Homo sapiens: one gene and its partners. The protein of the gene in region 1 interacts with the protein of each later gene in a biochemical or structural test. Each region holds a gene or a part of one and is shown in the gene's direction. Other genes may lie near its edges. The genes, in order: UBE2L3, SMURF1, TRIP12 and WWP1.

What was found.
Region 2: the proteins of UBE2L3 (region 1) and SMURF1 form a complex in vitro, tested with the Homo sapiens proteins (12 studies listed by BioGRID, with this or other methods).
Region 3: the proteins of UBE2L3 (region 1) and TRIP12 form a complex in vitro, tested with the Homo sapiens proteins (6 studies listed by BioGRID).
Region 4: the proteins of UBE2L3 (region 1) and WWP1 form a complex in vitro, tested with the Homo sapiens proteins (9 studies listed by BioGRID, with this or other methods).

What each region holds. Positions count from the first base shown.
Region 1 is NC_000022.11:21,563,546-21,571,368, forward strand, and holds the start of UBE2L3 (ubiquitin-conjugating enzyme E2 L3), read left to right. Parts: upstream 1-4,168; 5' UTR 4,169-4,199; coding exon 4,200-4,226; exon of another isoform or gene 4,227-4,832; intron 4,833-7,823. UniProt on the Homo sapiens protein: Ubiquitin-conjugating enzyme E2 that specifically acts with HECT-type and RBR family E3 ubiquitin-protein ligases.
Region 2 is NC_000007.14:99,140,516-99,148,677, reverse strand, and holds the start of SMURF1 (E3 ubiquitin-protein ligase SMURF1), read left to right. Parts: upstream 1-4,569; 5' UTR 4,570-4,897; coding exon 4,898-4,952; intron 4,953-8,162. UniProt on the Homo sapiens protein: E3 ubiquitin-protein ligase that acts as a negative regulator of BMP signaling pathway. Mediates ubiquitination and degradation of SMAD1 and SMAD5, 2 receptor-regulated SMADs specific for the BMP pathway.
Region 3 is NC_000002.12:229,792,704-229,800,486, reverse strand, and holds part of TRIP12 (E3 ubiquitin-protein ligase TRIP12), read left to right. Parts: intron 1-1,103; coding exon 1,104-1,204; intron 1,205-1,437; coding exon 1,438-1,612; intron 1,613-2,655; coding exon 2,656-2,797; intron 2,798-3,704; coding exon 3,705-3,896; intron 3,897-5,156; coding exon 5,157-5,308; intron 5,309-7,341; coding exon 7,342-7,514; intron 7,515-7,783. UniProt on the Homo sapiens protein: E3 ubiquitin-protein ligase involved in ubiquitin fusion degradation (UFD) pathway and regulation of DNA repair.
Region 4 is NC_000008.11:86,464,015-86,469,254, forward strand, and holds the end of WWP1 (NEDD4-like E3 ubiquitin-protein ligase WWP1), read left to right. Parts: intron 1-2,779; coding exon 2,780-2,879; 3' UTR 2,880-4,489; downstream 4,490-5,240. Other genes in the region: RMDN1 (regulator of microtubule dynamics protein 1), read right to left, coding at 4,662-4,693. UniProt on the Homo sapiens protein: E3 ubiquitin-protein ligase which accepts ubiquitin from an E2 ubiquitin-conjugating enzyme in the form of a thioester and then directly transfers the ubiquitin to targeted substrates.

The sequences.
Region 1 (7,823 bases):
GCGAGACTCCGTCTCAAAAAAAAAAAATTAATACTTTTTTTTTTTTTTTGAGACGGACTCTCACTCTGTCACCCAGGTTGGAGTGCAATGGTGTGATCTCGGCTCACTGCAACCTCCCCCTCCCGGGTTCGAGCGATTCTCCCGCCTCAGCCTCCCAAGTAGCTGGGACTATAGGCACCCTCCACCACACCCAGCTAATTTTTGTATTTTTAGTAGAGACGGCATTTCACTATGTTGGCCAGGCTGGTCTCGAACTCCTGACCTTGTGATCCGCCTGCCTCAGCTTCCCAAAGTGCTGGGATTACAGGTGTGAGCCACTGCACCTGGACTATTTATTTTTGTAGATATGGTAGTCTTTCTATGTTGCCCAGGCCGGTCTTGAACTCCGGGCCTCAAGTAATTCTCCCGCTTCAGCCTCCTAAAGTGCTGGGATTATAGGTGTGAGACTGTACGCAGCCAAAAAAGTCTACTTCTTTTTCTTTTCTTTCTTTCTTTTTTTTTTTTTTTTGAGACATGGTCTCACTCTTTCACACAGGCTTGAGTGCAGTGGCACGATCACGGCTCACTGTAGTGTCACTCTCCCGGGCCCAAGTGATCCTCTCACTTCAGCCTCCCAAGTAGCTAGAATTACTTGGCCATCACACCTGGCTAATTCTTTTTTTATTTTTTGTTGAGACGGGGTCTCCCTATGTTGCCCAGGATGGTCTCAAACTCTTTGGCTCAAGCAATCCTCCTGCCTTGGCCTCCCCAAGTGCTAGGATTACAGGCATGAGTCACCACAAGGTTACTTCTGATGGGAGGCTTGGGCAGATGGCACAGAAAGGATAGGTCTGTATGAACAAGGTTTGGCTGAGTGGAGGGGATCGGGTATGACTAGAAGCCAGGCCTGCTAGAGGGAGCAATGAAGGTTTTAGAGCAGGAGAGGGACCCCAAAGGCCAGGCAGCCCTTCCACTGGGACTGGGTACATTTCCTGAGTGCTTGTTTAGTAAAAGCACTTTGTAGCTCAGCGGCTTGACTCCCCACCTGCAAAGTGCAAGGGAGTCATCTTGCAGGCAGCGGTGAGGATGTAAGAAGATGCCATGGCAAAGGCTAGTCCTTGACATTGAGCCTCTGATGATCCCACTCTGTATTCTCAGCTTAGCACATCCGGGTCAAAGGTATGAACTGTGCTTCCTCAACTGGCTTGGAATTTCTCAGCGTAAGCGTCCCCTTCCTCCGTAATTCTCCACAGAGGAAAGCAGTTCCCAATACAGCTATGTTTTTTATTTGTCCTGGGCCCAGTAAGGGCAGGTTCTGTGCTCACAGTAGACCCCAGAGTCAGTCCCAGACTTCTAAGTCCCACCATGACCCTAGAGATCTGATGGGGTCCCTCATGCATACGCTGAATGTGTATTGAACACTCAGTGTACTGGCCTTGGGGGAGGTAAAAGGCAGGCAGAATCGCTGATCACATGAGGCTTGTCATCTAGTTTCTCCCTCCTTTACCGTGTCAAGCCTGGGCTCCCAAGATGAGTGTGAGGCCAGCCTTATTCCAGGATATATATATCTATATATATATATTTTTGAGACTGAGTCTTGCTGTGTTACCCAGGCTGGAGTGCTGTGGAGCTATCTCCACTCACGGCAAGCTCCGCCTCCCGGGTTCACGCCATTCTCCTGCCTCAGCCTCCCGAGTAGCTGGGAATACAGGCGCCCGCCACCACGCCCGGCTAATTTTTTGTATTTTTAGTAGAGATGGGGTTTCACCGTGTTAGCCAGGATGGTCTCAATCTCCTGACCTCGTGATCCACCCACCTCGGCTTCCCAAAGTGCTGGGATTACAGGTGTGAACCACCACACCCGGCCCCAGGATATATTATTTCCAGTTCCCTTTCCTTCTCTCCTTTCAGGAGAAACCCACTGTTCTTAGAAATGGAGAAAAATGTCCAGGCCCAGTGACTCACACCTATAATCCCAGCACTTTGGGAGGCCAAGGTGGGTGGATCACTTGAGGTCAGGAGTTCAAGACCATCCTGGCCAAAAATGCTAAAACCCTGTCTCTACTAAAAATACAAAAATTAGCTGGGCATGGTGGCAGGTGCCTGTAATCTATGCTACTCAGGAGGCTGAGGCAGGAGAATCACTTGAACCCGGGAGGCAGAGGTTACAGTGAGCTGAGATCATGCCATTTTGCACTCCACCCTGGGTGACAGAGTGAAACTGTGTCTCAAAAAAAAAAAAAAAAAAAAAAAAAAAAAAGAGAAAAACTCCTTAAGAAGGTCTGAGTATATTCTGAAGCTATGTTCTTCTCTCTGCATTGCTACCTGAGGTCCAAACCACTGTCACCTCTTTGCCTGAATGATTGCAACCGGTTTCCAAGTGGCCCCTGCTCCCCTTCTTATCCTCTTACCCACCTCCATTCCCCATTTTCCAATCAGAGTACTCCTTTTTTTTTTTTTTTTTTTAAGATGGAGTCTCACTCTGTCGCCCAGGCTGGAGTGCAGTGGCGCGGACTTGGCTCACTGCAACCTCTGCCTCCCAGGTTCAAGCGATTCTCCTGCCTCAGCATCCAGAGTAGCTGGGATTACGTTCGCCCACCACCACACCTGGCTAATTTTTGTATTTTTAGTAGAGACGGAGTTTCACCATGTTGGTCAGGGTGGTCTCAAACTCCTGACCTCAAGTGATCCACCCCCCTCAGCCTCCCAAAGTGCTGGGATTACAGGCATCAGCCACTGTGCCAAGCCCCAAAGTACTCTTTAAAACATGCGTCTCAGCCCAGGTGTGGTGGCTCATGCCTGTAATCCCACCACTTTGGGAGGTTGCGGCGGGAGGACTGCTTGAGCTCAGGAGTTTGAGACCAGCCTGGGCAAGACAGTGAGACTTCATTTCTACAAAAAATAAAAAAAAACTTAGGAGGGTGTGGTGGAACGTGCCTGTAGTCCCAGTTAATTGGGAGGCGAAGCAGGAGGATCCCTTGAGCCTAGGAGGTCGAGGCGGCAGTGAGCTGTTATCGTGCCACTGTACTCCAGCCTGGGTGACAGATCAAGACTCTGTCTCAAAAAAAAAAAAAATCATCTGACCATGGAGTCAATACTCATATCTATCAAAGACCTCTCACAGCACATGGAATAGAAACCAACTCCTCCCCTTTCTACAAGACCCTCCATGGTCTGTCCCCTGCCTCCCTCCCACCCTATAATCCTTTTACTCCATTCTGGACACTGAGACAGCCTCATGGTCTTCGCCAGTGCTGCTTCCTCTGCTTGAAACATTCTCCTCCAGTCCTCCCAGCTGTTCCTTCCCATTTTCCAGGTCCCAGCATTGGCTTTGGAGCCAGCAGCCCACCTGTGACAGGAGCCTGGCTCTGCTCCTAGCTGGCCGTGTGACCTTGGGCAAGTCACTGGCTTCTTCTGTGCTTCTGTTTATTGTGAAATGAGGATGTTAATGCTAACGTATCCCAGAGGATGGTTTCAAGGGTTAAAGAAAATAAAGCACTAGAGAGAGGTCTGGCACTTAGTAGGGCCATTTCCTCAATTTGGCTTCCTTGACCTCTCAAAGTATGTCCCCACAGTCACTTTCCTATCACCCAGTTTTCTTCACAGAGCTTGGCAGTGTGAAGTAACCTTGGTTATTCAACTTTTTTTTTTTCCCCCAAGACGGAGTCTTCCTCTGTCACCCAGGCTGGAGTGTAGTGGCAAGATCTCGGCTCACTGCAACCTCTGCCTCCCGGGTTCAAGCGATTCTCCTGCCTCAGCCTCCTGAGTAGCAGAGATTACAGGCGCCCGCCACCACGCCTGGCTAATTTTTTGTATTTTTAGTAGAGACCGAGTTTCACCACGTTGGCCAGGCTGGTCTCGAACTCGTGACCGCGTGATCCACCCGCCTCGGTCTCCCAAAGTGCTGGGATTACAGGCGTGAGCCCCCGCGCCTGGTCAACTATTTTATGCAATCAGTATTTATTATGCTCCTACTATGTGCCAGGCACTGGTTGTAACTGCCATCTGATTGGACGATCCGTAAACGCTGAGGCCCAGTCTGTGCGGTTCACTTGCGTTCCTCCACGCGCCCCCCAGCACAGTGGGAAGCACACAGTAGGTGCTCCGCTCTGCTCCTGTGCCCCGCCCCGCGGCCCCTCCCCCGCTCCAGGAAGTGCGGGGGCTCCAGCCGCCCGGCCGGCCGCGATGCATTCTGGGGAAGGAGCAGCACCAAATCCAAGATGGCGGCCAGCAGGAGGCTGATGAAGGTAAAAGCCATTCTCTGGCAGCGGCCGGGCGTGGGGCGGCGTCCTAGGCTCCGGATCCCCGAGGCAGGCGGCGGCTTCTCAGGGCGCTGCCGTCTGGCTTCCTGCCCTACACGGCCTCGTCGGTTCCCTGGGCCGCGCGCAGGCTCAAGGTGCTAACGGGGCTGGCCTAGGCCGCAGCCTGGGCGGGAGCGCAAGGCCGCGCTGGGAGCCGCTGTCGGCCCCTCAGCCCGGCCCGGGGCGTTCACGCCACTCTCCGCCCGGAGCTTGGCCGCGTCCCCCTGTCGCGGAGGCCGCGGTCCGATCTGAGGGCGTCGTTAATGTGAGAGCCCGGTTGGGAGGCTCCAAACCGGGCGCCTTCGGGGAAGGCCCGAGCGCCGGAGCCCCTGCCCGGAGCCCGCGCCGCGGAACCGCCCCGCCCTGGGCCGCAGCGCGCCGGGCTTGCAGCTCCGCTTGGCCCGGCCGCAGCTCGGGAGTCTGGGAGGTTCGGGCTAGGAAAGAGAGAAGGAGGCCAGGCGGCCAAAGTTAGGTCAGTTTGTTGGTGGGTCGTTTGGAATTGCGCTGGGTCCTAGCAAACTGTCGCCTTGTGACTGCAGAGTCACACAGCGGGTAAGTTCCAACTCCAGGAAGGCCTGAGGTCGGCCCCGATCGCGGCGCGGTTCTGCTTCCCTCTCCTCCACTCAGTCATCCCGATCTCCCCTCCCTGATAAAGTGCCATTTTTGGGGGGATAACGGTTGATTTCAGTCGTTCGAATCAAAACGGGCCAAAGTTTATAATAATAATTTGGTACTTTGGATCTTGAATGCAGCAGGGTGCTTTCTCGCTAATTGGCACCTTTTGGTGAGGAACACATGCTAAATTGGCTTAGTACTTTTGCCAGTGGATTTGCCAAGGTCCTCTGTAGCCCACCCCGCCAGCATCTGTGAGTCGGCGGCTGGGTAGTGCTGCCGGCCTGCAACGGGCCGGAAATTAAAAAAAGGCCCAGGAGCCAGTTTCCTGAGGGGAGATAAAGAGCTGGGGTTCGTTCTAGGCGGAGCAGTGCTTGGTAGAGCTAGACATTGAACTTGGAGCCACAGTCTCTGAGCATTCCCTCCGTCCCTGGGAACGTTTCCTTTCTTTTGTTCCCTAAGGGCTAGAGAGGACATTAACTTTATAAAACTGGAGTGGAAGTGGGCACAAAAGAACAGTCAGAGGACTTCAGACCTCTCCTCATCTCTTAAGCTAGTGACACCACCATTCACCAGATAAGGGGTCGGTTAATGGCTTTCTTTCCTACCCTACTCCCAGGTGCAGTCGTCCATTAACCCTTGTGGATTTAAATTTAGAAAGATTTCTGGAGTGCAGGCCGGGCGCGATGGCTCACGCCTGTAATCCCAGCACTCCTGGGAGGCCGAGGCGGGCGGATCACTTGAGGTCAGGAGTTCAAGACCAGCCTGGCCAACATGGTGAAACCCTGTCTCTACTAAAAATATAAAAATTAGCTGGGCGTGGTTGCATTTGCCTGTAATCTCAGCTACCCGGGAGGCTGAGGTGGAAGAGTCGCTTGAACCCGGCAGGTGGAGGTTGCAGTGAGCCAAGTTTGCACCACTGCACTCCAGCCAGGGCGACAGAGTGAGACTCCATGTCAAAAAAAAAAAAAAAAAAAAGATTTCTGGAGTGCATGCCTTGCTTTCTAATGTTACTGAAATTACTCTGAATCTATATCCTCATCTCTCAGGTGCCCTCCCAAGTGCTCTCCTCCCCAGACTACCCCTGACGGACACCAGAGTTCTTTTAAAGCAGATAACTCAATTCTTTCACTCCTGTTAAAAACCTCTATGGTGTTATTGTCCTCAGCAGTTAATCCTAACCTCTTACTTGGCATGCAGGACCTTTCTGAGACTGGCTGAAAGCAATCCCTTGAGCCTCACCTCCTGCCCTTTGGTTTCCCACAGTTCTTGCACCTAATCACAGTAGCTACTATTTTTCCAGCTTTTACTTCGTGCTTTATATGCATGATCATGTTTAATCCTTCCTGTGAAGTAGACATTGTGATTTCCATTTTGTCGATGAGAAAAGATTCTTTGGCTTGCCCAGGGTTACCTAGCTAGGGAGAGTGAGTTGTGATCGAATTCGGTTCTTTCTCCAAAGCAAAGTCTCCTGCTCTTACTTGCTGTCTGATGTCCCTTTGCACGTGTTGTTTGCTCTACCCAAGAAAAGCTGCCTTCTCCTCACTTCTCCCTTCCAGAGAAGTCCCAGGTTCAACTCCAGTGCCAACTACTCTGTGAGCCCGTGCTCCCACATCCCCCTTCAGAATGTGTTGTTTCCTCCTTTGTGTGACCACAGCGCTTTCTTTATATTTCTCTTTGAGCACTTGTCACAATCTCTTTGTGTTACAGACTTGTCTTTCCTGTACTGGGTTCTGAGATCCCGAAGGGCAGGGATCTTGACCTAATTCATCCTGGTAGCCCCCTAGCCTATCCCAGTTGACCCAGTTTGGAATCTCCAGGCTCTCAGGGGTCTAAGAGGGGACTTATTATGGTTTTAAAATTATTACTCTGTTTCTAAAAAAAAACAGACCTTGGAAAAAAATTGTAACATTAACTGAGTATTTATTAAGTATTAGGTTATTTACGTAAGTCATCTTTTCAACACTCAAAGTTAGTGTATTGTCATTTGTATTTTTTATAAATGAGGACATTGTGAGGTTAAGTAGGTTAAGGGAGTTACCTAAGGTAGAATTGTGGAACGTGGTGGGGAGAGAGAAGACGCTGACTCTTCCTGGCTCCAGGATCCAAATTCCATGCCTCTTGTCAGGCTGTCTTTCTTACTCAAAGGCTGCATGGAGCGGTGTGTTGTTTCTTAAGTTGAGGATGGAAAGGCTTTCAGTTCACTAGGGGAACACCAGTTATGTAATGCTGATCATTGGCTGTGAGAATCAATGTTTAAGACTGTTTTTTTTTTCTTTTAAAGGAAGAAAAATTATTGATACAAGTTGATAAACAGTCTTTTCAGTACATAGGGTGGTAATAAAGTGATTTTCGTTGGTGAAAAGTTGGGGCTTAGTGCATGGAACAGTGCCTTAGGCATAGCAATCTAGCAAATGTTGAATGATCAAATTAATTACATCTTAAAGAACTTTAGATTTCTGTTAAAAATGTTTTCTAGGACATTCCACAGCAAAGATTTCTTTGTAACAATGGACTGTCTGCAGATAGTGTAAAACACATTATTAAAAGTAGAGTGATTTACATATACTACACTGAGAAGTTATTTTAGGCAAAGTGAGTATGATAAAGTCTTTTATTTCAAAAGCACTTGCCAGGAGGCTTAACCTCTTTTAGAAGCCTTTTTAGGAATTACAGTGTTAATAAAACATTAAGTACATTTTAATTTGCAAGCAGCTAATTTAGCATTGTTGGCTACAACCAGATTGTAACCATTGCTTCAATCAGGATGGGGAAATTGCTGCAAAAGCCAAAAGTGAAACCTTTATGTGTGGCTTAGGCAACTGATTGCCATCTGATCATTTCTTTGCAGCTTCACACTGCACACATTTCCCCTAAGGGCCCTCCTGTTGAGTAGCTTCCCAGAAGGGCTTTTCTCAGAGGGGAAATCTG
Region 2 (8,162 bases), on another chromosome or scaffold:
CGAGGCTGAAGTCAGCCATGATGATGGCACTGCCTTCCAGCCTGGGTGACAGAGTGAGACCCTCTCTTTTAAAGAATAAATAAGGAGTTATTAATCTAGGGACTACAGGCCCTTACAGGATTCATAAATTGGTTTCAGGTGATCATAAACCCACTGAAATCAGAGGCAAATTTTGATGTGTATTTGCACATATGAATTTTTCTGGAGGAAGGAGTCCAGAGTTTCCATCAGATTGTCAAAGAGGTTTGGGACTCAGAAACTGGTTAAGAACTACTGCAGTCAGATCCAAAGACAGATTTGCCCACTGGAAAATATTTCAAATGCCCAATAACACTGACTCAGGGAACTGATACATTTCTGGGAAATAAAAGCAGTCAAATGCTACCTAGAAAGCAGGGTCAAAACTGCTCTGTGTAAAGCCATTGCAAAGAGGACACTTGAGGAGGCTCACCGAGTTCCATCTCTGTTTCAGCAGAATTGTTTGACATTTTGCATCTGTTTGTTCCAGATAGCTTTAGAAGATTGTATTTTCGAGGAATGTGATACATGATGAAAGGAAGGGAAGATGATATATCTTAAGTTCAATATGATAGCGTCTGATGATTTTTAAGTGGGCAAATGCTTTTTGTTATTTTTAATCAACTTTTTTTTTTTTTTTAAAGACATGGGGTCTCATTCTGTGATCTAGACTGGAATGCAGTGGCACAATCATAGCTCACTGCAGCCTTGCGCTACTGGGCTCAAGCCATCCTCCCACCTTGGCCTCCTGAGTAGCTGGGACTACAGACATGCACCACCTCACCCAGATAATTTTTAAATTTTTTGTAGAGATGGGGGTCTCGTTATGTTGCCCAGGCTTTTATCAAAAAAAAAAATTTTTTTTTTTGAGATAGAGTCTTGCTCTTATCGCCCAGGCTGGAGGGCAGCAGTGCAATCTCAGCTCACTGCAACCTCCGCCTCCCGGGTTCAAGAGATTCTCCTGCCTCAGCCTCCCGAGTAGCTGGGATTACAGGCGCCTGCCACTACACCCAGGTTATTTTTGTATTTTTAGTAGAGATGGGGTTTCACCATGTTGGCCAGGATGGTCTCAAACTCCTGACCTCAGGTGATCCACCCGCCTTGGTCTCCCAAAATGCTGGGATTACAGGCGTGAGCCACTGTGCCCGGACTTTTATCAACTTTTAATGGAGTAAGTTGTATGGATAGAGTATACAAGCAGCTCCATAAGTACATTTTTATTGAAAATGGTGCTGGAAAATGCCATTCACGTTCATGCCTTTGTGCAGCTGTTCCTTCTATCTATAATGCCCTTCCTCACCACTTTGCCCAGCAAACTTGAACGTTGGCTTTAAGCTCTAGATTAAGATCATCTGTGACTCGAGATGTCTCCATTTCTCTTCTTATGTAGAATTGTTCTGTCATCTATGTTCTAGCCTGCTATACACATCCCCATCACTGTATCATTGTCAGTTGCTCATGTCTGTTTCATCCAGTTAACTGACCCTCTGGAATGCTGAAGCTGTAATAGATTTATTTTGTATTCCTTGTTCCTAGCCACATAGCAGGTGGCCAATGTTTGCCGAATGAGTAAAACATGAGCTTCCAGGTAGGAAGGTCCCCTTTGTGCAGCTGTGGTGAAAGATACTATTGGGTATATCTAGCAATTTCAAATGGTCCCAGTTTATGACGGTTTGACTTACGATTTTTTGATGTTATGGTAGGAAAGCGACACACATTCAGTAGAAACCACACTTCAAATTTCGAATTTTGATTCAAAATTCTTTATAATAACTTTATCGTAAAATAGGCTTTGTGTTAGATGATTTTGCCCCACCGTATGGTAATGAAAGTGTTCTGTGCACATTTAAGGTAGGCTGGGCTAAGCTATAATGGCTGGTAGCTTAGGTGTAGTAAATGCATTTTCCGTTGTTTTTTTTTTTTTTTTTTTTTTTTTTTTTTTTTTTTTAAGACACAGTCTCGCTCTATTGCCCAGGCTGAAGTGCAGTGGCACAATCTCGCCTCACTGCAACCTCTGCCTCCCGAGTTTAAGTGATTTTTGTGCCTCAGCCTCCCGAGTAGCTGGGACTACAGGTGCACACCACCACACCCAGTTAACTTTTGTATTTTTAGTTGACAGGGTTTCACCATGTTAGCCAGGCTGGTCTCGAACTCCTGCTCGCAGGTAATCCCCCCACCTCAGCCTCCTAAAGTGCTGGGATTACAGGCATGAACCACCATGCCCGGCCTCCGCAAATGCATTTTTGACATATTTTCAACATATTATGGGTTTATCAGAATGTAACCCCATTGTACATCAAGGAGCATCTGTACTTGTTAATGAATGAACAAAATGCCTTTCAGAAACCTCCAGAAGCAACCTCCTGACTCAAAGATTAAGGAAACAGTCAAGCCAACGAAGAACCAGCCGTCGGGGCGGGGAGAAAAACAACAAAATTAAGCAATGAAAGGTTTCCAGGTCAGGAACACCTGGGGATAAGAACAGGAGCCTGCACCCAGGTAAGCAGAGAGTGATGTCTGGTTTTGTTTAGAGAGGAGACTCTTTGAATAGGGGGGAAATACTAACGGGATTGGCAGAAGAATGGGGATTACTTGGGAGCATTAGAGACTGGATGGATTAATTCAGACCCAGGCATTCACTCTCTGTGACAATCATCTACAAATGGAAACAGCTGGATTGTGGCTCTACTGCTATTGCTTAAACATTGCTTATATTCTTGGGTCTTTCTTGAGGATAACTGAAAGAGCCGCAAGGTGCCATAGAAATGACCTAGGACCATCCTTTTATTTGACAGATGTGATGCCTTGAATCCTGCCCAGGAGAGACTCTGCTTTCACTAGGGTCATCCGAGGCAGGCAGGCAGGCAGGCAGGCGGGCAGGCAGGCAGGTATGTCTAGGCGCTCTAGGTAGAAGGCTCTGTTCCGAAGACTGTGACCTTAGGACAGGCACAAGGCTGCAGGGGATGGTAGCAATGGCCCAGAGCCTACTTTCCTTGGGACACACACACACACACACACACACACAGTATTAAAAGAATTTGTTCAAGTTGATTGATGAAGAATCAAATAAAAATAAAAAAGAACTTGTACATGAAAATGGGTAGTGGGGTCTGGGAGCGGTGGCTTAGGCCTGAAATCCCAGCACTTTGGGAGGCTGAAGCGGGCAGATCACCTGAGCTCAGAAGTTTGAGACCAGCCTGGCCAAAACAGCGAAACCCCATCTCTACCAAAAATACAAAAATTAGCTGGGTGTGGTGGCTAACGCCTGTAATCCCAGCTATACAGGAGGCTGAGACACGAGAATCACTTGAACCTGGGAGGTGGAGGTTGCAGTGAGCCAAGACCGTGCCACTGCACTCCAGCCTGGGTGACAGAGTGAGACCCTGTCTCAAAAAACAACAACAACAACAACAAGGTAGTGGGTAAAAAACAAGTTTGATAAACCTAGTTTTCCCTCTTTCTAATAATACCAGTTTATTTCTATAACATGCTAACAGAGAGGAGTTTGTTTGCTGGAGAAAGCGCATAATGAGCTTTTTCTGTGTGTGTGTGTGTGTGTGTGTGTGTGTGTTTTGAGACAGTGTCTAGCTCTGTCACCCAGGCTGTAGTGCAGTGGCCTGATCATAGCTCACTGCAGCCATGAACTCTGGGGCTCAAGTGATCCTCCCACCTCAGCCTCCCAGTACCTGGGACTACAGGCGCGCACCACCATGCCCAGCTAATTTTTGTATTTTTTGTAGAGATGGAGTCTCCCTATGTTGCCCAGGCTGGCCTCAAAGTCCTGGGCTCAAGTGATCCGCCCGCCTCGGCCTCCCAAAGTGCTGGGATTACAGGCTACAGCCACCGTACCCAGCCATGAGCTTTTGGTTCTAACCTGCAACCCCGGGAGAAGGGGAAATTTAGCAGAAGACATGGGAACACAAACCACAATGCCACTTTCTTGTTTGGTAAAATTGTATGCAGAATGGATAATAACAAACATCCGCCTCTCAACTTTATCCCTCCCTCTCATCTCGTTTTCCTTGTCCGTATATGGCACTTCTGCGATTCTGGCAACTTTGTTATGGGTCAGTGGAGCACACCCGTTGCACAGAACACACCTAAGGGCTTTGTCTCTTTGAGAAGTCCCTCCCTTGAACTTGCACGATCGAAAGCTCTTAACTGAAAAAAACTGGTATTGCACGCCTGTGTGCAAGGAGCTTGGTGTGGACACAGCCCACGGTTTCATGCAAACCACTCTTCAGTCACTCAGGAGCCCAGAGCCTCGCAGAGACAGGGGTCAAGACAGAGGGCGACCGCGCGCTGGGTCCCGGGGCCAGCTCTGCTCTCCCTTCCCGGGCTCGGGGCCAGACCCTCCCACCCACCGACCACAGGAAGGGTGAAGACCCCAACCCGCGGGATCCGGGCCCCGCGCGCCCGAGGCAGGCGTGCGGGCGACGTAGCAGCGCACCCCGCCCCGCCCCAGCGTACGTGGCGGGGGCGCGCACGCACGCAGGCGCGGGGGCGCGCAGGGCCGGGCCGGCACGGCGGCGGGCGCGCGCGCGGCTCGGAGAGGCGGCGGCAGCGGCGGAAGCGGCGAGGGCGGCGGGCGTCCGGCTCTGAGGTGGTGGAGGCGGCGGAGGCGGCGGCGGAGGCGGCGGCGGCTCGGGACTGGGCTCGGCTGGAAGCAGCGAGGGTCAGAGCGCCGCAGCAAGCGCCGATCTCCCGGCTCGACCATCCGCCTGCCGCCCGGACGCCTGGGCCGCGGAGTTTGTGTCCCGGCTCGGACCCCGGCGCCCAGCCCGGAGCCGTAACCTTGAGGCGGCGGCGGCGGGGCCGGGCCGGGCCGGGCTGGGGGGCGGTGGCGCTGGATCCGCGGCTGCCCGATCGTTGGCGGGAGATGTCGAACCCCGGGACACGCAGGAACGGCTCCAGCATCAAGATCCGTCTGACAGGTACGGCCGGCGGGAGGCCCACCCGCGCCCCGGCGCCCCCTCGCCCGCCCCGGAATTCCCCGCAGGGCGCCCTTGGAAGCGGCCCTCCCCCACGCCGGCCGTTGTCCCAGGACCTCGTCACCCCCTTCGGCGTGCGCCCCTCGCTTCTCCCTCCTGGCCCCGCCCCCTCGCCGTTGCCCGGCCCCGCCCCCTGGCCGCTCGCGCCCCCTCGGTCTCGCGTTCCCTCCCGTTCCCCCGCACCTGCCCCCTCGCATCTCCGTCCTGGCCCCGCCCCTCTCATTTCCATTCATGGCCACGCCCCTTGCATCTCCTTCCCTGGCCCCGCCCCTCGCTTCTCTTTTCCTGGCCCCGCCCCTTGCATCTCCTTCCAGGCCCTTTCCCCTCACCTCTCCCCGGCTCGGCCCCTTGCCTCTCGCTTCCCTTCCTCTCCCTAGCACCTGACCCCTCGCTTCTCCCCCCAGGCCCCGCCCCCTTGCCTTTCACCTCCATCCCTGTGGTCCTTTCTCTTCCCCACCTTTCCTCCCCAAACCTGACCCCGCCCATCTCTCTGGCCCCACCCCCTCGCTCCTCTCTGCTCCCGCCTCCTAACTTTCTGTCCCCGCCCCCTCGCTTCTCCCTGCGTCCAGCTCCCTCGCTTCTCTCTGGTCCCGCCTCCTCACTTCTTTCCTAGCCTGGGCCCTCACTTCTTCCTGGTCCCGCCTCCTCACTTCTTTCCTAGCATCGGCCCTCACTTCTTCCTGGTCCCGCCCCCTTGCTTCTCTCCTTTTTTTCTCCTCCGCCGTTTTTACCCCCTCCCTCCTTCTCCTCGCTTCCCATCCTCTCCGCCCACCTGCCCCCTCGCTTTTCCCTCCTGGCCTTGCCTCTGTTCCCCTGGTCCCATCCCTCACTTCTCACCACTTTCCCATCATCTCTCTTGCTTTCCTGTTTTCCCTCCCACCTGCTCCCTCCCCTCATCCTCCTGGTCTTTCCCACCACTTCCAAGCTATTTTGCTACCTCCCCTTCCACTTGCCCCCTTGCTTCTCCCCTCCTGCCCCCACCCACCCTCTTCTCACTCCCCCATCCTCTTTCGTTTCTCCCTCACCCCCCCACACCGTCCTCCTCCCTTCTTCCCCTAGCCCCGCCCCTCACTTTCAAGCCCCGCCCTCATTCCTGCCTAGCCCCGCCCCCTCGCTGCTGTCTGGCGAGGCCTCCACCCTTTCTTTCCTTCAGCCTGAAATTCCTCAATCCTATCTTGTAGCTGCTCCCAGTCCTGCTCTCTTCACTTCCCCCTGGTCCAGCCCTCTTCAGTCTCAGTCTGGGCCACTTCCTGTCTCTTAGGCCAGACCGCTAGCTACTTTTAACTCTGCTTCTTCAATTTTTACCTTTTCTGCATTTTGTTTCACCATCACCCCCACACTCAGCAACCCAGAGCGCCGTGAGGCTCTGATCCCTACTCCCACACTCACTGGAGGCTTTGGAAGCTGCCCACACGCAGGCTCCTTGATTCATTTTGTCTTCAATGAAAAGTCCGTGTTTCCTGGGTGGCTCTGTAGTGCCACCTTCAAGGGTGAGCGCAACGCTCTGCCGCGGGCCTGCGACTTGGTGGCGCGGATGTGATGCCAACCTGTTTCCCCCCGGGCTCCAGAGGTTCTGGACCAGGCTGCATCCTCGTCTTCCCTTTCTCACTCTCATTGGTACTACTCTCTTTCCAGTTTCAATTCATCCCTAAAGCAGGATGGCCGTGTTGCAAATGCGGCTCTGCTCCGGGACTTTCCAAACTCGAATATTTCCAGCTCTGGAAGGAAACTAAAAAGTTCATTCTAATCCCCGTCAGGGATTTTCCCCTGGATTTTTCTGTTCAGTGGCTCAGTCGGGTGAGAACTCCAAAGTCCTGGTTTGGTCAGGTCCTTTCAAAGAGAGAATGAGCGTTTTGAACACTTTATGGCAGATGCGCAGCCATAAAGTCATCGGTAAAATCCATGCAAACAATAGGTAATTTTTTTAAACTAAAATTTACTTTGAGAGCCCATAGTTGTTGCATGGCCCAACTTTTGTCTTAAGAGAAGGTTTTGTTTTTTTGTATAAAGATATCAAATAATGATTTGGACCCAAACCCAGACCCTGGTTTTGTAACGTAGGAGGTAGTTTCCTCTGGGATCTTTGCTTCTGGGGAAATACATTTCTTTATGCCAGGGCTGATAGGAAACGCTTCTCACTTTGTAGATACAATGTAGATACATTTTTATTTATGTGGTAAGATAAAAGTAACATTTTTGAGATTGTAATACTTGTAAAGCTTTTAACTTGGTTCTGATTTACAGCTCAGTCTGTAATTGACATCAGATTGGTTTCAGTTATCTTGTTAAAAGCGAAAGCAACTGATTTTGTGTTAGAAATATGATGAATGTTTTAGAAGGAATAGGTTTTAATTGAAATGTTTATGTCTGGTGTATGTATATTAATCAATCCTATTTGCCAAGCCTGAGCCTTGAAAGGGAGGACTTGGTTTCTCCTCCTACCAAATTATTTTTGGATTTAGGAATTTAGATTATCGAAGCAAGAATGCTTTGAGGAATTTTTGGATGACATTTGATAGGGAAGGATCAGGTGATGAGTGTTGTTTCTGAAACACCTTTTCCCTTTCCCTTTCCCTTTCAGTAGATGTTATGAATGGTTTGAGAGGATTTGTGAGTGTGATCATCCTTACAATAGGATTGCGGTTTAGCGGTAATGGTACACATGCAATGCCAGTACGTGGAACCTTAGTTTACCTCGAAAGGTTTGAACTAGAAGTTTGTTGACGGTGGAATAGGTTTTAGTCTCATCTTTCTGGTTAAGGGAAGTTTGAATTCTCACTTCTGGGATGTTGAGAAGCAATCTTTCAAAATTTGAATACTTTTGTTACAGGTTTCAGAGTTTATTTCCATGTTTGTTATTTGGAAAAAAAAAAAAGACTGTTAAAAATGAGGGATATTTCAACCAGTCAATGAATAGACACAGAGCGAAATTCAGTGCAAAGATAGTGAAGATGGCCTGGCGCCGTGGCTCACGCCTGAATCCCAGCACTTTGGGAGGCTGAGGCAGATCACGAGGTCAGGAGGTTGAGACCATCCTGGCTAACACGGTGAAACCCCGTCTCTACTAGAAATACAAAAAATTAGCTGGGCGCGGTGGCTCACACCTGTAATCTCAGCACTTTGGGAGGCTGAGGTGGGGCGGATCACGAGGTC
Region 3 (7,783 bases), on another chromosome or scaffold:
TGTTGGAAATTTTCCAATTTTTTTTCAGATTTTTCCAGTTTTATTTGGGCCACAGACCAACTAAACCACAACATTTTTCAGCCTTTTCATCTTATTTAGTTTTGTTATTCTAAAAATTTATTGCTGTTACAAACTATTTCTACTGTCGTTAGAACAGGCTACAGGTGTTTAATTTTGCAAATGATTCTAATTCAGAATAAATTACTCATACTACTCACTAGATTTGTATATAGGTTTAAAAAAACCAACTAAAATGTTCATAAATGCATTTATTTAGTATGTTATTGCCATTGTCACACTATGAAATTACTTTGGGTAGTATGTTAGAGGCAGATGAGTATTTTGACAACATGAACACTAAGGGTCATGTATATTTTACTCACGGCCATTTTGGTTATGGAAAAAGTGTGTTATGTGGATTTAACATTCTTTTTCAGGTTGGTGATTACCCGTTTATTTTTATTTTGCTCCTTTGTGTTGCATATTTGCTTTATGTACTTATATACTACTATTTAAAGTGGAACACATAGAAAATTGATCAGTCATCTTATCTGGCTTTATGTTTCATAGTTCAGTATAGTTAAACAGCTAGTTATTTTCTGAATAATCATTTGCTGTGTCTGCACACCTCTAGAACATGACTGGCACAGAATTGGCATTAAATAATCACTAAACAAGAACATACCTTGTTATGACAGTATTTTTTTTTTTTTTGAGATGGAGTCTCACTATCTCCCAGGCTGGAGTGCAGTGGCGCTATCTCGGCTCACTGCAAGCTCCGCCTCCCGGGTTCACGCCATTCTCCTGCCTCAGCCTCCTCAGTAGCTGAGACTACAGGCGCCCGCCACCACGCCCGGCTAATTTTTGTATTTTTAGTAGAGATGGGGTTTCACCATGTTAGCCAGGATGGTCTTGATCTCCTGACCTCGTGATCTGCCCGCCTCGGCCTCCCAAAGTGCTGGGATTACAGGCGTGAGCCACCGCGCCCGGCCTGACAGTATTTTATTACTCCCTGTTTCTGCCATTTTAGTTTGCTTTTTCAGTGAGTGAAGATATAAAACAGTGGTAATTGCTAAACTTATCTCATATTTTCCCATGGACAGTCGATTAAGTGATGTTCTAAAGAGAAAACGACTGCCAAAACGAGGGCCAAGAAGGCCAAAGTACTCACCTCCAAGAGATGATGACAAAGTAGACAATCAAGGTAACCCCTTTGATGAAACTATGGGGAGGTAAAGGGGAGGGTGGTAGCAGGTGCAGAAATGTACTTTATTAAAACTGCCAGTAGCTCTTGAAGTATGCCTAAGTTTCCTGAGGACTAAGTGTTCTTAGTTCTTTCAGTTAATTAATCTGTTAAGACTGTGAATCTTAAAAATCAGTTGTTTTTCATCACTTAAACTAAAATGACTTAACTGTAGTTCTTTTTTCTTTTCATAGCTAAAAGCCCCACCACTACTCAGTCACCTAAATCTTCTTTCCTGGCAAGCTTGAATCCAAAAACATGGGGAAGGTTAAGTACACAGTCCAACAGCAACAACATTGAGCCAGCACGGACTGCGGGAGGTAGTGGCCTTGCCAGGGCTGCCTCAAAGGATACCATCTCCAATAATAGGTGAAGTGGGGGGAGTTTTATGTTTCTTCTATTCCCATATCAGAAAAACTTAAACATTATTTCAGCCAGTACGTTTATTGTGTGGAGACGATACATAGACACAGCACTTTAATTTGTTCTTAAAAGCATAGTTCAAGAATTAGGTAGTTTCTCAGTTTATGAACCCTGCATCTGGCTTTGTCCTAAGTTCCAGTCATGTGCTTTGAAACTCCTTCCAGCATACCTAGCTGAAAGTCTTATACGTTCAAAACCACATTGTATTCCTTGGGGAACCTCTTCCTCAGTTTTGTTCCAGACAAGGAAAAGCTGACATTTTCTGTCCACATTCTTCACATCTTTTATGATAAAATTTCTCTACCCATTACAATGGAACTTCAGGATTTTAGGGGAGAGCCTTTTTTTTTTTTTTTAAGTCCTTGGGACTTGTTTTATTTTTGGGTTCTGCATGTAGCATACCAACATGATTACTTCCCTCTGCAGATAAGAAATTTTAAAAGACCAAATGTCATTGAGAAAATAAACATGCTCTCTTTGGTTTTGTTGGTTGTTTTTCTTAATTTCAGTGTATAAAAATAATTAAGTGAATGGATTTCTGAAGCCATCAGCATTTGTAATTTAAGCAGCCGGGTCTTATTTGCCATAGCTTATTACATCCTTAATAGGCGCATGTTTCTGGTCTGTAAATCTTTACTTCAGCTCTCCAGGAAACACAAGTTAAGGATAATGCAGATATGTATGTACTTTAGGAAGTAAAGGGAACACTTAGGAAAGTGTTATATTGCAGGGTTCCAAAAAATTATTACACTTTGTTTACAATTCATGTAATGACCTGCAGTGTATTTTAAGTTTTTAAACAGTTCTCCAGGTGGTACATCGTAGCCCATTTTCAAAGTGAAAGTTAATTTGGTTATGGAATCTGGAGTTTTTAAACTGTAAGCATAGACCAGGATGAATTTTAAATGTAGCAGCTATTTGCCTTGATCAGAAGTTATATCCTTTCTACATACACTGGGACTTTAATATCTCCTTTTTGTTTCTTGTAGAGAAAAAATTAAAGGTTGGATTAAGGAGCAGGCACATAAATTTGTAGAACGTTATTTCAGTTCTGAGAATATGGATGGAAGCAACCCTGCATTGAATGTCCTTCAGAGACTTTGTGCTGCAACCGAACAACTCAACCTCCAGGTGCTGTGTCCAGTGCATTTTGCTGGTCTTTTTCAGTCTCTTCCCAGCATCTCCTGCTACTCTTTTCCTTCATGACTCTCTAGCTTCCTATGGATTTAGCTATCCTACATCGACTTTTACCTTATATACACCCTTGGTGCTGGCATTTCTTTTACTTATCCCTTGACTATCAGGATTCATCAGTCTGTATTAAATGTACTAGAAACCTCATCTTTGACTTTCTTTCCTTCACATCTCATCATTCTTGACAAATGAAGAAACTTCAGAAATGTCCTCACAAGCACATCTGTTTTCTAAGTCATCCTCAACTATAGGTATAGATGATAGGCCTTCCTTAGCCCCTCTCTTCACATGGGGTCTCAGAGTGGCAGGAGAGGCTAGAGGTTTACTAATAAGTGTTTTACGTTTCATCTGGTTCTCAGTTTTTGTTCTTATTTTTATTTTTATTTATTTATTTATTTTGATGTTTTTGATGTACCTTGAGCAGTTTTGGTAGTATGTTTTCCAAGAAATTGTTCATTTTGCTGAGACCTTAAATGTATTAATTTAAAGCCACACCTTGTATTCTTGATTCATCTTTCCATTCTGGTGTTATAGCCCCTTATTCTTCAGTTTTCTGTTCTCATCTTTTAAAATACTCTTTTTTAAAGAAAACTACATTGGTTGAATATGAAGATTTTCTTCTTATGTTATTATGGATTCCTGGTTTTCCTCATGAAATATTTAGTGTGTGTGTGTGTGTGTTTAAAATCATAATTTCCAAGGATTTACTAAGACTGTACCACTCCCCTGCCCTCTTTTTTAAGGGCGTTGAGAATATATTCATTTCCTTTTGAGGATATGTGAGTTGTGTATTTTTTAAGTGCTGCTTAAATCAATATAGAAATACTTTTCCTAACTCTTTCAGGTGGATGGTGGAGCTGAGTGCCTTGTAGAAATCCGTAGCATAGTCTCAGAGTCAGATGTTTCATCATTTGAAATCCAACATAGTGGATTTGTGAAGCAGCTGTTGCTTTATTTGACATCTAAAAGTGAAAAGGATGCTGTGAGCAGAGAGATCAGATTAAAGCGATTTCTTCATGTATTTTTTTCTTCTCCAGTAAGTTATCTAATAATGCCTGTGTATCTTTTAAGAATCAGTGCTCACTAATGCATATATTTTCATCTCAGTAATAATTTCCAGCAGGTCTTGGTCAAGACATTGAGGGAAAACTTCTAGGTTTTCACATAGTTGGAATCCTTCAACTTCTGTATATCAAAGTAAATAGTAAAACAATGAAATGGGGATTTAACAAAGCCCATGTCACTATTTCTATGATTGAAGTATCTTGAGTCTTTTTTGCTTGCAGGATGAGCCATTAATAGTAGTCTCTCACCTGTGAATGTATTTTACTTGCAATATTTGTTTTTAAATGTATTGAAGTTTGTATTAGTTCCTTTTAGTGAAACAGACATCTATAATAAGATAGAGGAGTTATATTTTCTTGTTTTGTACATAAAATACAGTTGTAACAGTTCCAATCAAGGGCGCTTAATGACCATTTATGTCACCGTTTATAATGTGGATTACAAAGCCACAGAGTGGCTCCCCTTCCTTCACTCTTAAGTGGGCCAGAGCAAGAGGGTAATCCTTGGATGCTGTTGACAGCATTCTCCTTGTTTTACAGTGGCTTAAAGAGAAGGCATCACTTGGAAACGTTCCCTATTATCTGTGTAATAGGGCTTAGCATAGCTCTCCTATGTATTAACACTATTTCACCATGCGCTTGCAGTCCTCAGAGGCATTTGAGCATTGCTTGTATTTTAACTTGTGAGTCAACCTAAAGCAAAGTTAGTATTTATTGGAGATTCATTAGAAGCGTGACAGTATTATGTATAGTTTTACAGCATACTTAAGATTATGTGCAATCTCTTTTCTGAAACCCCTGGAGTTTGGTCGGTTTCAAAGGTCCTACAGTGTGTAGTACATTAAAATTCCCAGCAGTTTCTGAATAGCACTGTATATTATATGCATTAAATATTTTTATAGCATAACATGAATATTCTTACTAAAATCAGATAAATAAAGACTGTAAATAGCCTTATGTCTGTTTGGATCAGATTTTGCCACCAAGTGACTTGTGTTTTCAGAGCCTTTGGATGTAGAGATTGTGAATACAGGATTGTGGGCTGTACAAAACAGTTGTCTTTATTGAAATAATTGACGTGGTAACATCGTTCAAACCAAATCTGCCATAAAAGATAAAGATGAATAGACAAATTATTCTCTTTTATAAAGCTGCTTATTAAATCTTCTCTTTGAGGAGACTTTTGTTTTGAAAAGGCTTTGTTTAACCTGTTTGTTTATTTATAACTTTAGCTTCCTGGAGAAGAGCCCATTGGAAGAGTGGAACCAGTGGGTAATGCACCTTTGTTGGCATTAGTTCACAAGATGAACAACTGCCTCAGCCAGATGGAACAATTTCCAGTCAAAGTACATGATTTCCCTAGTGGAAATGGGACAGGAGGCAGGTAAGGACCATTGCCTGGCTATACCCTTGCCACTGGAATTTGGTACTTAATTTCACTGAAGTAAGATGGCAAGAGGTCTGGTAAAGTCTTGATTGGCCCAGAAAACATTCAGCTGTAATGATGAAAGAAATTAAGCACTCTAAAGAATGAATCAAATGCTTTCTTATCTTTAAAATTATACCATATGCCTTAAACAGGATGCTTTATAAATATATAATCCAGTGATTGTATTTGTAACTTGTAATAGGCTTAGTTTTCCTTAAATTGATACACTTCAGCATACAAAACTTCCTTAAGAACTTTATGTTTAACTTCAGTAGGGATAAAAAATTTTTTGTGGCTGTGAGTAATGTTTACATTTTGAGCGATATGATTTATATGTAATATTAGTGGCTATAACTTTGTATTTTGATGGGGTCAAATGTTTGAAGTTTTACTAGTTTAATAAATATATATATTTTTAATGTAGTTTTAAGGACTCTTGAGGTGCTACAGGAAAGAATTGTTCTATGTTGTGGAATGTTACAAGTTTCATGGAATATTTTGACCGGAGGCCTAGAAAATAGGAAATTTGTTTGGTTTTTATTTATTTATTTATTTATTTATTTATTTTGGGACAGAGTCTTACTTTGTTGCCCAAGCCAAATTACACTAGTGTGAACATGGCTCACTGCAGCCTTGACCTCCTGGCTGAAGAGATCTTTCTGCCTCAGCCTGCCACGTAGCTGGGGCCACAGGCATGTGCCACCATGTTCCATTAATTTTTTTATTTTTTGTAGAGACGGGGTCTCACTTTGTTGCCCAGGCTGGTCTCAAACTCTTGGGCCCAAGTGATCCTCCTGCCTTGGCCTCCCAAAGTGCTGGGATTTCTGAGCCACCACACTCAGCCTAGTTTGGTTTTTAAATCCACATTTTGACGTTTTAAAAACATTTAAAAAACTTTGTTTGAATTAAAAACCATATGCATTTTTGAGTGATAAAGCAATCACATCATGGACTAGGGTTTCTTTTCTGCTTTGAAATTTAATGTAGTGTGTGGTATTCAGTTTTGATCGTTATGATTTCCTGGAGGAGTTCATGAAATAAGGGGGCATTTTGACCTGTGCTTGAGAAAATCATGAAGCTTTTTGTGTCCAAATTTATATAAAATATGTTTGCATATGTATATATTCATAAAATGGAATATTCTCCACATCCCTATTTGTGTGCTTTATGTGCAGGAGGGTCCAATCTTTTGGCTTCCCTGGGCTATATTGGAAGATGAATTGTCTTGGGCCACATAAAATACACCAACACTAATGTTAGTTGATGAGCTTAAAAAAAAAAAACACTCATTGTATTTTAAGAAAGTTTACGAATTTATGTTGGCCTATATACAAAGCCATCTGGGCTGCATGTGGCCTGTGGGCCGCAGGTTGGACAAGCTTGCTTTGTGGAATCATACAGATAATCACAGTTTAAGTTTGTATCTGACTCCTGCCAGAGCTTTTCTGAAATGAGCAATTAAACATCATGACCAGGTTTCAACTGCAGTAGCTATTAAACCGCTTCGTTCAAAACTATTATAGCAAGGTAAATTTTAAAGGTTAGTTTTTAATGTAATATTGTAGCTGAAATCTTTGAAATAAAGAGTTTTTTTTTTCTTTTTAAAAAATATAATTCAATAGGAATGGGCAAAATATTGCAGAAGTGAGTGTGCTTAAATAGTTCAGGAATTTTTGTTCCAGAAAAATAATTAAATATTCATGGGTGAAGTATTTCTGCTCCCATGGATTTATGATGGGACAGAGATCAAATATTGACTTAAGGTTTTCATATGCATGCATACACATCCGTCTTTTATTTCTTACGTATAAAAATTTTTTCTAAATAACTTGAATTATTGGCTTTACCATTCACAGAACTGGTAAGTAAATGCTTAGTACTAGTGTGTCTTATGAAAATGCAGTTTGTATTAACTTGCCTTTATTTGAATTAATGTATATTAAATGTGAAAATAATAGACTAACTTTTTTTTCACAAATTATCTTGAGCTTTTCTCTCAACAGAGGATCACAGGCTTTAAAATTTTTCAACACACATCAATTAAAATGCCAGTTACAAAGGCATCCAGACTGTGCAAATGTGAAGCAGTGGAAGGGTGGACCTGTCAAGATTGACCCTCTGGCTTTGGTACAAGCCATCGAGAGATACCTTGTAGTTAGAGGTACTTTCCATATATTTGTTTCGTGTGTTATATATGTATATTTGGGAGAAATTTACATTAAGAGTTACATACATTATTTCTCTGTTTAATGTTGTTTCTGTTAAAAAATAGATGGCAGGAACTTATATTCCTGTCTTTTATTTTCTACTTAGTATATAGTCATACATTGAACTTACTAGGGGTTGACTGCTTCCTTGAATGTTGAGTTAATTTATCTTGGTGAAATGTAGTAGAAATGACATTTTGTGTTTGGCAATTTTCTTAGACCT
Region 4 (5,240 bases), on another chromosome or scaffold:
CACACCACTGCACTCCAGTCTGGGTGACACAGTAAGACCCTGTCTCAAAAAAAACAAAAAAAAGATCAAAAAGTGCAAGAAGAGGAAACAGTAGATTTTGTATAACAAAGTACAAAGTGTTCTTTGACTTGATTTCAAACCCATATTGTGCATTCCCTTGTCAAATTTAGTATCAAAGAATAATATCCATAATTACCTGACAAGATGAGTAATCTCCATTTCTAACTATTTATCTGTGTGGGGCTATAGATTAAATGTACAACTAGATATCAAAATCCATATGTTTTCTATTACACCAGATATTTAAAAGATTTCCAAAACTAAAACAAAATCACTCTTTCCACTATTTTTTTTGGAAGTAGTTGGGTTTTTCCCATTAAAATGTTATGTTTATTTTCATATCAAAGTGAATTAATATTTTTTAAACTTCTGTTTTAACTTCTAATCCAGTAAATATCAGTAGCTATAATTCATATAAATAAAAGCTCTTTGCAGTTGGAAATCCATTTTTTTTTTCCCAAGATAGAGTCTTGCTGTGTTACCTATGTTAGAGTGCAGTGGCACAGACACAACTCACTGCAGCCTCAACCTCCTGGGTTCAAGCAATCCTCCTGCCATAGCCTCCTCAGTAGCTGGGACCACCAGTGCACGCCACTATGCCTGGCTAATTTTTTAATTTTTTGTAGGGACAAAGTTTTGCTGTGTTGTCCCAGGTGGGTCTTAAACTCTGGGCTCAAGCTGTCCTGCCTTGGCCTCTGAAAGTGCTGGGATTATAGGCATGAGCCACTGCTCCCAGCCAAGGTTGACAGTATTTTTAAGAGTGAAAAGGAGTCCTGTGACCAAAATTTGAAGACCTCTGCCTTCAATAAAAGTGATAGATCCATATGTATACACACATGCGCGCGCGTGTGTGTGTGTATTGAGAGAGAGATTTTTGAGTCAAAGGGAGAATTAAAATAGATTTCAAATTTTGTGAAAGGAAAGTAATTACCACCCACTGATTTCTGTTTTCTCAAAGTATAAGGAGAAGTCACTGGCTAAGAGTGAAGAAAGGAAAAACTTTTGAGAGAAAGAAGGAATTGGGAGAATTGTTAGAGAATAGGCAAGTATTCATTAGAGGAACACGGCTAAGATTGCTAGGCAAAATTGGATTGCTCACTTGGATTAGAGCATGAAACAAGTTGACAGCAAAGAGCATAAGCTTCCTTTCCCCACCACAGCCCCCTCCCCACCCATAGCAACTCGAAAGCAGCAAAAGTTTTTGAAGAGTGGCATAAACTGGTATGTCTTTTTAGCAAAAAGTAAAAAAGAAACAAAACAAATAGACCCAAAGAATTCTCTGATGGTCCAGGTAAGAGATGATGGGGAAGCATATACAAAGGGATGTAGTGGCAGTAGAAATGATGAGGAGGAGCCTGGGCAACATGACAAAACTTCGTCTCTACAAAAAAAAATACAAAAGTTAGCTGGCCATGGTGGCATGCGCCTGTACTCCCAGCCACTCCAGGGACTGAGGTGGGAGGAGGGAGGATTGCTTCAGCCTGGGAGGTCGAGGTCGCAGTGAGCCGAGACAGTAGCCTAGGCGACACAGCCAGACCCTGTCTCCAAATAAATAATCAGGAGAAAAAATGGAATATTTGGTAGATAGAATGACAGAATTTGGCAAAGGCTATATGTGAAAGATGTAAGAGAACAGAAAGTGACTGGTTGTCTTGTATAGGAAGTATTAAAAAATAATTTTTTTTTCTGACCTTGTTATCATACTCTACCTTGAAGTATAAAGGGGAGGGCAGTATATGGTCTGCTTAGTTGCTGCTATTAATATCTTTAACTTCATTTAAAATACAAAGAATACAGTCTTAGAACAGCACTGTTTTATTTAGATGCCTTGTTTCAAAGGCTCTTTCCTGACTCTGACATGGGAGGGTCAAGGGCACATGGAAAGTGGTGACAGTGGTAAGAAGGCACCTGGATAATCTCTAGAAACCTTCCACATGGGAAAATGAAGGTACAGAAGGGTTCTGACTTACTCAGGGCTATCTCACTAGTCACTGCTACTGTAGGGACCAAAACCCTGAACACCCGAATCCTAATCTAGCTACTCAGTGCTGTACCTCACAAAACGAAATGTTATTCCACCTTTGTAAACTGAAAAATAATAGTTATTTTAAGCATTTTTTAGTATTTTAAAATTTTTATCAGTTAATACCAGAATGGAATTGAGTATGGCAAGATTGAAAAAGTGTCATTTTAGAAGAGTTTATATATGTGGTTAGATTATTTGAAAAGACAAAGAAACATATATATTTGTTAATTGACTGTCTCTACCCCAGAATGTAAATTCCATGAAGACAGGGATTTTAGTTTTCTTCACTGTATCACTAGCTTATCAGTTATATAAAAAATTCTCGGTAAATGACTGATGAATGAGTGACTGAGTGGATGAAAGAAATGGACTCTTATCCTAAGAGAAGTTAAGAGGACTCATGACACATGTAACAGGAATAGTAAAAAGAAAATGGATTTTTTTTTTTTTTTAAATTTGTCTTTATCCATATTGCTACACTTATTATTTGTAATTCCATTTTCCTCTTGGAGATGTTAAAATAGTTTTTATATGTAAGTCTTAAATTTAGATTACTCTAAATACTTCTGGCAAAATTTTAACATATATAGTATACATATATCCATTCAGCATTTCTATGTGCTTTGAAAAGTATTCTATTAGATTTTTTTCATTTTATTGAAAACATCTGATTTTGTTTTTGTTTCTGTTCAGTTTTAATCGCTTGGATCTACCACCATATAAGAGTTATGAACAACTAAAGGAAAAACTTCTTTTTGCAATAGAAGAGACAGAGGGATTTGGACAAGAATGAATGTGGCTTCTTATTTTGGAGGAGCTCTTGCATTTAAATACCCCAGCCAAGAAAAATTGCACAGATAGTGTATATAAGCTGTTCATTCTGTACAGTGAATTTTCCGAACCTCTCAAAGTATGTTTTCCGTTCTTCCACAGAAATATGCAAAACAGTTCATCCTTTTCTACTTTATTTATTGTTCCCTTGAAATGACTGACCAGGAAAAAGATCATCCTTAAATTTTGAAGCAAGTGAGAGACTTTATTAAAAATACATATATATCTATATAAACATATATGATAGTGGCTCTAGTTTTATAGAGCTCCAAGTGTATTAAACATGACAGCCATTCATTCATAAAGATCTGGATTTGCTTTACCTTGTTAATATTATCTAGGGGAAAAAGTGCAAATTGCTCCATGTTCTTCTCTCCCTTATGTAACATCTCCTGAGGGTGTTTAGTTGCATGGCTGTTCAGAAAGGTATTAAGGGCTTAGGCCAAATCTTACTTTGAGTATGTTAAAAAAAAAAAAATGCTGCTGGCTTTTCTGAAGACAGGTGCTTGAACTTGTCAGTTTGTTTTAAATAAATACAATAGTTGAAAATTTTTCTCTGTTACATCAGTAATATTGTTAAAGTAATGGATAGAACCATAACTTACACATGAAAGTCATATACTAGATCCAATACTATTTAGTTTATTATCGAAATTGGAAGGATTCATTGAGCAGCATAGAAGTTTGTTTACATGTTACTTTGAGATGCTAGGTATTTGTGGAATTAAAAAGAATCAGGCTCTTTTGTACTTTGTTTTTAAATCTGTGATGCTTTTCAAATTTAATTCATAATAAATTGATGCAATTTCATACTTAGGAACATACAAAAGGTAATGTAAACTCTGCCACTTTTTTGTGTTCAAAATTTTGGTTTTTATGAAGCCAGATGGATTGAAGAGTTACATAAGCATTTGAATGCTCTAATATAAGGCTAATGATTTTCTGTTAGTGTTTGAATATCTTCATTCCTCTCAAATTCATAACAGTTCTATTTAACTGAATTAAATAACCATATGAAAAATCTTTTGGGTCTCCCCCTTTTTACACAGATAATTATTTTTGTCATAACACTTTTTAATTGTTTTTCATCATAGGGGCCTTTGCTGAACTACAAAAATGTGTAACAAATTAAAATCTGATGTGAATGATATTAATGCTACTTTTAGCAAACTGGGCTTCCTAATACAAAATTTTAAATTTCCATTTGTATCATGCTTTTAATATGCACTGTAAATTTCATTAACTTAAACATTTTTTAATAGCCATGGAACTGACTTCTTAAAATCTGTTGCCTATAAATATTTCACTGCTAAGTACATACAGAAAAACAGTAATTATTGTTTTGCCAAAATTTTATTTTTCTACATATTGAGAGTGTGTTCTCCATTTTATTCAGAATTCATAGTAAAGACGAAAGAAAGGCAGAGATCTGCTTGGTTGAATAGACTCCTTTTCCAAATCCTTATTATGAACACTCTGGTAATTTTCAAGCCTAAAGAATTAAAAAAAAAATTCTAATGTATGTGACAGGTTATGTGATAGAGGGAAACTGGCCTTCAAAAAGGACTGCGTATACCATAAAAGAGTTAAGTATTAGAATTACAAATGGTACCACTGCTGTATAAATTTTGCCATGACAGAAGTTATTGAATATCATTCATTGTAGGTATGATTTAGCAGATTTGACTGAAGAAGGCAGCTTTCCAGTTCGTTTTCAGGGTGCTGGTCTCCCTCAAGTAAGAAATTACGATGCACTAGGTGAGGCTACACAGAACCCTACAAGAGACAAAACCAGCTTTGTTTTGGAGAATTCATCAGGGTCTTCCACTTTTCATACCCAATTATAGATATCCAAGACCTACAGGCAGAGCTCTTGATTTATCTACCCAGTAGCAGTCAGAAAAACTGTAGAAATATGGTCCCCCACTCACCTTCTCCCCTTCTTCCCTTCCCATTCCTGTTCTGTGCTGGACTAACCGAAAGAAATTAGGAGTGCAAGACTCTCTGTGCCCAAAACACAGTTCATGAGGAAACAGACAAGAGGGAGGCTCAGAGACAGGTTTATATTGCTACTTCATTTTGGTGACTCCCCCACCCCCACCACCAGTAAATGGCCCAGGGAATAGCTCACAGGCCCAATACAATTCTGTCTGTTAGATCAGTTAAGCAACACAATTCTATCTGTTAGATCAGTTTAGTTGTTTGTCTTCCAGGGAAAGCAGCTTACCAGTGTTTTTTTTGTTTGTTTGTCCCGCCCCCCCCATGTACTTCCCAAGTAGTTGAAAATGAAAAGGTTAACAAAACCTTTTCCCCTGATGACTTC